Linked DNA regions of Homo sapiens: region 1 is linked to region 2. Evidence: fine-mapped expression QTL. A gene starts in region 2. The other region holds a variant in brackets. All regions are shown on one strand. Distances are between the middles of the regions.

Region 1 (2,500 bases), 29 kb after region 2:
CCCAGCACTTTGGGAGGCTGAGGCAGGTGGACTGCCTTAGCTCAGGAGTTCGAGACTAGCCTGGGCAACATGGTGAAACCCCATCTCTACCAAAAAATAAAAAAGATTAATCGGGCGTGGTGGTGACTGCCTGTGGTCCCAGCTACTCAGGAGGCTGAGACAGGATTGCTTGACCCTGGGAGGCAGAAGTAACGGTGAGCCAAGATCAAGGAACTGCACTCCAACCCGGGTGACAGAGTGAGACCCTGTCTCCAAAATAAAAAACAATCACACTGAGCTGGGTGCAGTGGCTCAGCTCACGCCTGTGATCCTAGCACTCTGGCAGGCCAAGACGGGAGGATCACTTGAGCCCATGAGTTCAAAATCAGCCTGGGGAACATAACAAGACACCAACTCTTAAAAAAAAAAAAGAAAATTAGTTGGGCTGCTTGGGACGCTGAAATGGGAAGATGGCTTGAGCCCAGGTCAAGGCTGCAGTAAGCTGTGATCATGCCATTACACTCCAGCCTGGGCAACAGAGCAAGACCCTGTCTCCAAAACAAATTCTGTTCTAATCCTTAATAGCTTTAATAGCTTTAATTTTTTTGGTTGTCTTGACCTGCAAGCGTGCTCAGAAAATTGAGTATTACACACATCTCAGATCTCCTTGTAATTCTATCAGTTTTTGCCTCATTAAGTACATTTCATGATTGATAATGTCTTAATGAATTGTTCTGTCCTACTGATTACTTTTTATCTTGAATTCTTTGATTTAGCTAGTTTTAGCTAAATTTTGGAACACAATCTAAACGTGTCATTTAATAAGTTTATTTTTACTGCAATCACTGATGTTTGAAATTATTCCTATAATTTTTTTTTTTTTTTTTTAAATTACAGATGGAGTTTTGCCATGTTGGCCAGGCTGGTCTCGAACTCTTGACCTCAGCTGATCCATCTGACTTGGCCTTCCAAAGTGCTGGGATCATAGGTGTGAACTACTGCACGTGGCCCAATTTTGTATTTTCTAATTGACGGGTTTTCTTTTTAAACCTTTCCTGCCTCAACTGGAGCTACCAAGTTTCCTCCCACTCCTACTAATTCTCTTTGCAGTGTTTAACAATGTCTAATGTCAATGTGCTTAGCATGTTTTCACTTTCCCAAATTTAAAAACTTGTTTTACACTCAGAACTTTTGAAAAAAAATCTTAGTAGCTTCTCTCAAAACTGATTTTTCCTTCTTCATAGTTCTTCCAGAAAGTGTATACAGGTGGTACTTTGAGTCTATGTCTGAGGATATCTTTTATTCTCACTTTTTGATGGTAGTTGGCTATACATAAAATCCTAGGTTATGGATTTATCGTCACCTCTAGTGTTGCGGAGAAGATGCCTGATGTTTGATTCTACTTCCTTTGTAGGTAATC[T/A]ATTTTTTCTTAGTAGCTTTTGGGATTTTGCTCTGAATCTTTTTGTTATGCTGTTACTTTATTGTTCGCTTATTTATTTATTTTTGTTTTTTTTTTTGAGATGGAGTCTTGCTCTGTTGCCCAGGGTGGAGTGCAGTGGTGTGATCTCTGCTCACTGCAAGCTCTGCCTCCCAGGTTCACGCCATTCTCCTGCCTCAGCCTCCCGAGTAGCTGGGACTACAGGCACCCGCCACCACACATAGCTAATTTTTTTGTATTTTTAGTAGAGACGGGGTTTTACCATGTTAACCAGGATGGTCTTTATCTCCTGACCACATGATCCGCCCACCTCAGCCTCCTAAAGTGCTGGGATTACAGGCGTGAGCCACTGCGCCCGGCCATTTTTTTGTTTTTAAGACAGGGTCTTGCTTTGTCAACCAGGCTGGGGTACACTGGCCTGATCATGGCTCACTGCAGCCTCGACCTCCAGGGCCCAAGTGATCCTCTCACCTCAGCCTCCCAAGAAGCTGGGACTACAGGCGCCCATCACCATGCCTGGCTAATTTTTTTGTAGAGACAGGGTTTCATCGTGTTGTCAAGTCTGGTCTCGAACTCCTGAGCTCAAGTGATCCACCTGCTTAGGCATCCCGAAGTGCTGGGATTACAACAGGTATGAGCCACTGCACCTGGACCAGATTTTTGGTTAAAAAAGTGAAATCATAAGGCCGTGCACAGTGTCTCATGTCTGTAATCCCAGCAGTTTGAGAGGCCAAGGCGGGTGGATCACTTGAGCTCAGGAGTTCAAGACCAGCCTGGACAACATGGCAAAATCCTGTCTCTACCGGAAACATATAATCCCAGCTACCTGGGAGACTGACATGGTAGGATCGCTTGAGCCCAGAGGCTAAGGCTGTAGTAAGCAGTGAGCCATGATTGTGCCACTGTACTCCAGCCTGGTAACAGAGTAAGACCTTGTCTCAGGGAAAAAAAAAAAAAAAATTCCGTTTACAACTTTGTTAGCCCTTTCTATGAGTTCTAGGAAAATGTCTACTTTTCTCAAATAATGCTTATACATCCCCTCCTTTTCTCCTTCTAGATATTCTCCTTTTCTCCTTCTAGATA
Region 2 (3,016 bases):
AACAGTAAAGTTGTCCCGATATCGTATAGTCAAAAAGAATGAGAGATGTTAATGTGTTCCTCCAAAATTCATTTGTCAGAACCTGATGCCCAGTGTGATAGTATTAAAACGTGGGGCCCTTTGGGAAGTGATTAAGTTTGGGGGCTCCTCAGGAATGGGATCAATGTCCTTATAAAAGAAGCTTCATGGCTGGGCGTGGTGGCTCACGCCTGTAATCCCAACACTTTGGGAGGCTGAGGCCAGTGGATTGCCTGAGCCCAGGAGTTTGAGACCAACCTGGGCAACATGGTGAAACTCCATCTCTACTAAAATACAAAAAATTAGGCTGGGTGCGGTGGCTCACGTATGTAATCCCAGCACTTGGGGAGACCGAGGTGGGTGGATCACCTGAGGTCAGGAGTTCGAGACCAGCCTGGCCAACATGGTGAAACCCCGTCTCTACTAAAAATACACATTAGCGGGGCGTTGTGGCAGGCGGTTGTAATCCCAGCTACTCGGGAGGCTGAGGCAGGAGAATCGGTTGAATCTGGGAGGCGGAGGTTGCAGTGAGCCGAGATCGCGCCATTGCACTCCAGCCTGGACAACAAGAGTGAAACTCGGTCTCAAAAAAAAAAAAAAAAAAAAAAAAGCCGGAAGTGGTCATGCGCGCCTGTAATCCCAGCTACTCGGGAGGCTGAGGCAGGAGAATCGCTTGAACCCGGGACACGGAGATTGCGGTGAGCTGAGATCTCGCCACTGGACTCCAGCCTGGGCGACAGAGCGAGACTCTGTCTCAATAAAATAAAATAAATAAAAAATTTAAAAAATGAGGTCTGGGTGATTAAACAGTTATACAGGTGGACAGTGATAAAATCCCTGACTCCAGGGTTAGAGAGACCACCCTGGAACCCACTGGCTGGTTGGAGTCGAGATGTTTGACCTTGGGCCCTCTTCTCCTTTCTCCATCTGTCAGATGGGTATAGGATGACTTTCCGTGGGGAGTGCTTGACAGGAGCTAAGAAACAGGTCAGCTATGGCGCTTACTGCCTGCGGGAGCTGCCGCACTTAGAACCACCAGCTGTTATCCCATTTTTATAGATGAGGGCAGAAGAGAAAACGCAGGTGGTTGGGGCCAGGCTGTCTGATCCGGATGGGGGACTTTTCCCTCGGGGCAGGTGAGAGCGCCTGGAGAGGCCCCTGCCCCCGCGCACGCGTCCTAGCGGTTGCCGGGCAACGCGGCCCGGGCCATGGAGGCGTCGTACGAGTCCGAGTCCGAGTCCGAGTCTGAGGCCGGGCCTGGGACTCAGCGGCCCGGGACCGGGACCGTGAGCGCGGCCGTGCGCGAGCACTTGCGGAAGCTGTGTCTGCGCGAGTTCCCGTGCGGTGCCGGCAGCTGGGTGCGGGCGCCGGGGCCGGAACTCTGGGGGCCTGGACCGGCTGCGGGGAGGCACGGGCCCGGGCGAGCGGAGCGGGCTGGTCCCTGGGGCCTGGGATCTGCGCATTCTGGGGGCCGCCGACATGGGGGCGGGTGGGGCTTGAGGGTGACGGTGGGGCCCGAGTCGCGGGCACTGCGCGGGGAGGAGAGCGGGGCCCGTCCTGAGCACATCAGCTGACCTGGGCTGGGGCCTCTCCCTGACTTGAAGACGTCAACACCCCAGATTTCTAGTGGGCAGGCTCCTTTTGGGGTGAAAAGCTTTTGTTTTGGGCAAAGAGTTCCACAACTTTTCCCAGCCTCCGAGCATTTAATAAGAGCCTGAGGCAGTGTGAGAGGTGGCTCAGCCTGAAGCCTGCGACCTTGAGTCCAGGAGAAGGGGTTACCCCCCATCCTGCCTCCCTGTCTCCAGAGTCCTAGACCCTTCCCTCCCGTGGCTTCAACCACGAGGGGCGCCCAGGTGTGGCCCAGGAAGGCTTACTGCCCAGGCTGGAGCATAGTGACGCGATGTCGACTTACTGCAACCTCCGCCTCCCAAGTAGCAGGGATTACAGGCACCTGCCACCATGCCCGGCTAATTATTGTATTTTTAGTAGAGACAGGATTTCACCATGTTGCCCAGGCTGGTCTCAAACTCCTGACCTCAAGTGATCCACCTGCCTTTTTAAAAGGAATGGCACCTTTTAATTATTTTGTATCTCACCTCATCTGTAGTTATATCCATGGCTAATAATCCATCAAAATTATTGATTATTCACTGTCTAGATTTTTTTTTTTTTTTTTGAGACGGAGTCTCGCTCTGTCACCCAGCCTGGAGTGCAGTGGCGTGATCTCGGCTCACTGCAACCTCCGCCTCCCGGGTTCAAACGATTCTCCTGCCTTAGCCTCCCGAGTAGCTGAGACTACAGTTGCGTGCCACCACGCCCGGCTAATTTTTTGTATTTTTAGTCGAGACGGGGTTTCACCGTGTTAGCCAGGATGGCCTCGATCTCTTGACCTCATGATCCGCCTGCCTCAGCCTCCCAAAGTGCTGGGATTACAGGCATGAGCCACCGCACCTGGCCTACTCTCTAGATTTCTAAACTCTATCCCTAATCGTCCAGTTTTATGATCTGTTCTGTTTTGAGAGTTTGGTGTCCTTAAGGGGGCTGTGTCACACCTACAGAAAATCCCTCCTCTGCCACTGCAGAATAAGTCGCGCTTTCTTCCTCAAACTTGGCGAACTTGGAGGGAGCTTGTCCCCAGAGAGGAGGATGTGGTGAGCCCCGGAGAGGAGACGGTGGAGGCCCTGCTGGGCCTGGTCCGCAGCCGCCACTCCCCCTGGGCTCTGCTGAACAACTCGAATGCAGAAGACAGTTTCCTGAGAGAATTGGCCATCCGGAACCCGCTGACGATCACAGACACCTTCTTCTACTCCTACTTCCGGTCCCTGCGGGTAATAGACAAGAAGGTCAGTGCTGGGCACGTGGTAGGTGATGTTAGGGTGGCCGCTCCCCTAAGGGAGGTTGTGGGGAGGGCACCCTTCCCCACAGCGCGTCAGGGATCCTGCTTTCAGGGCTGAAACGAAGGCCAGCCTGCCCTCCATCTGCTTCATCTCCCTGGCTT

The links.
Region 1: its variant is fine-mapped to the expression of LRRC43 in whole blood (TOPMed, PIP 0.99).

The regions. Positions count from the first base shown.
Region 1 is chr12:122,211,147-122,213,646 of GRCh38, forward strand. All of the region lies in intron 5 of DIABLO (diablo IAP-binding mitochondrial protein), which reads right to left. Among named protein-coding and RNA genes, the nearest start is that of B3GNT4, 8.7 kb to the left of the region's middle. The variant T/A (reference allele first, on the strand shown) is at 1,400.
Region 2 is chr12:122,181,919-122,184,934 of GRCh38, forward strand. It overlaps LRRC43 (leucine rich repeat containing 43), which reads left to right and starts at 1,205. Exons shown (of 12, transcript NM_001098519.2): 1 at 1,205-1,376; 2 at 2,601-2,861. The coding sequence starts at 1,227. RefSeq lists a silencer at 1,233-1,332 and an enhancer at 2,926-2,995.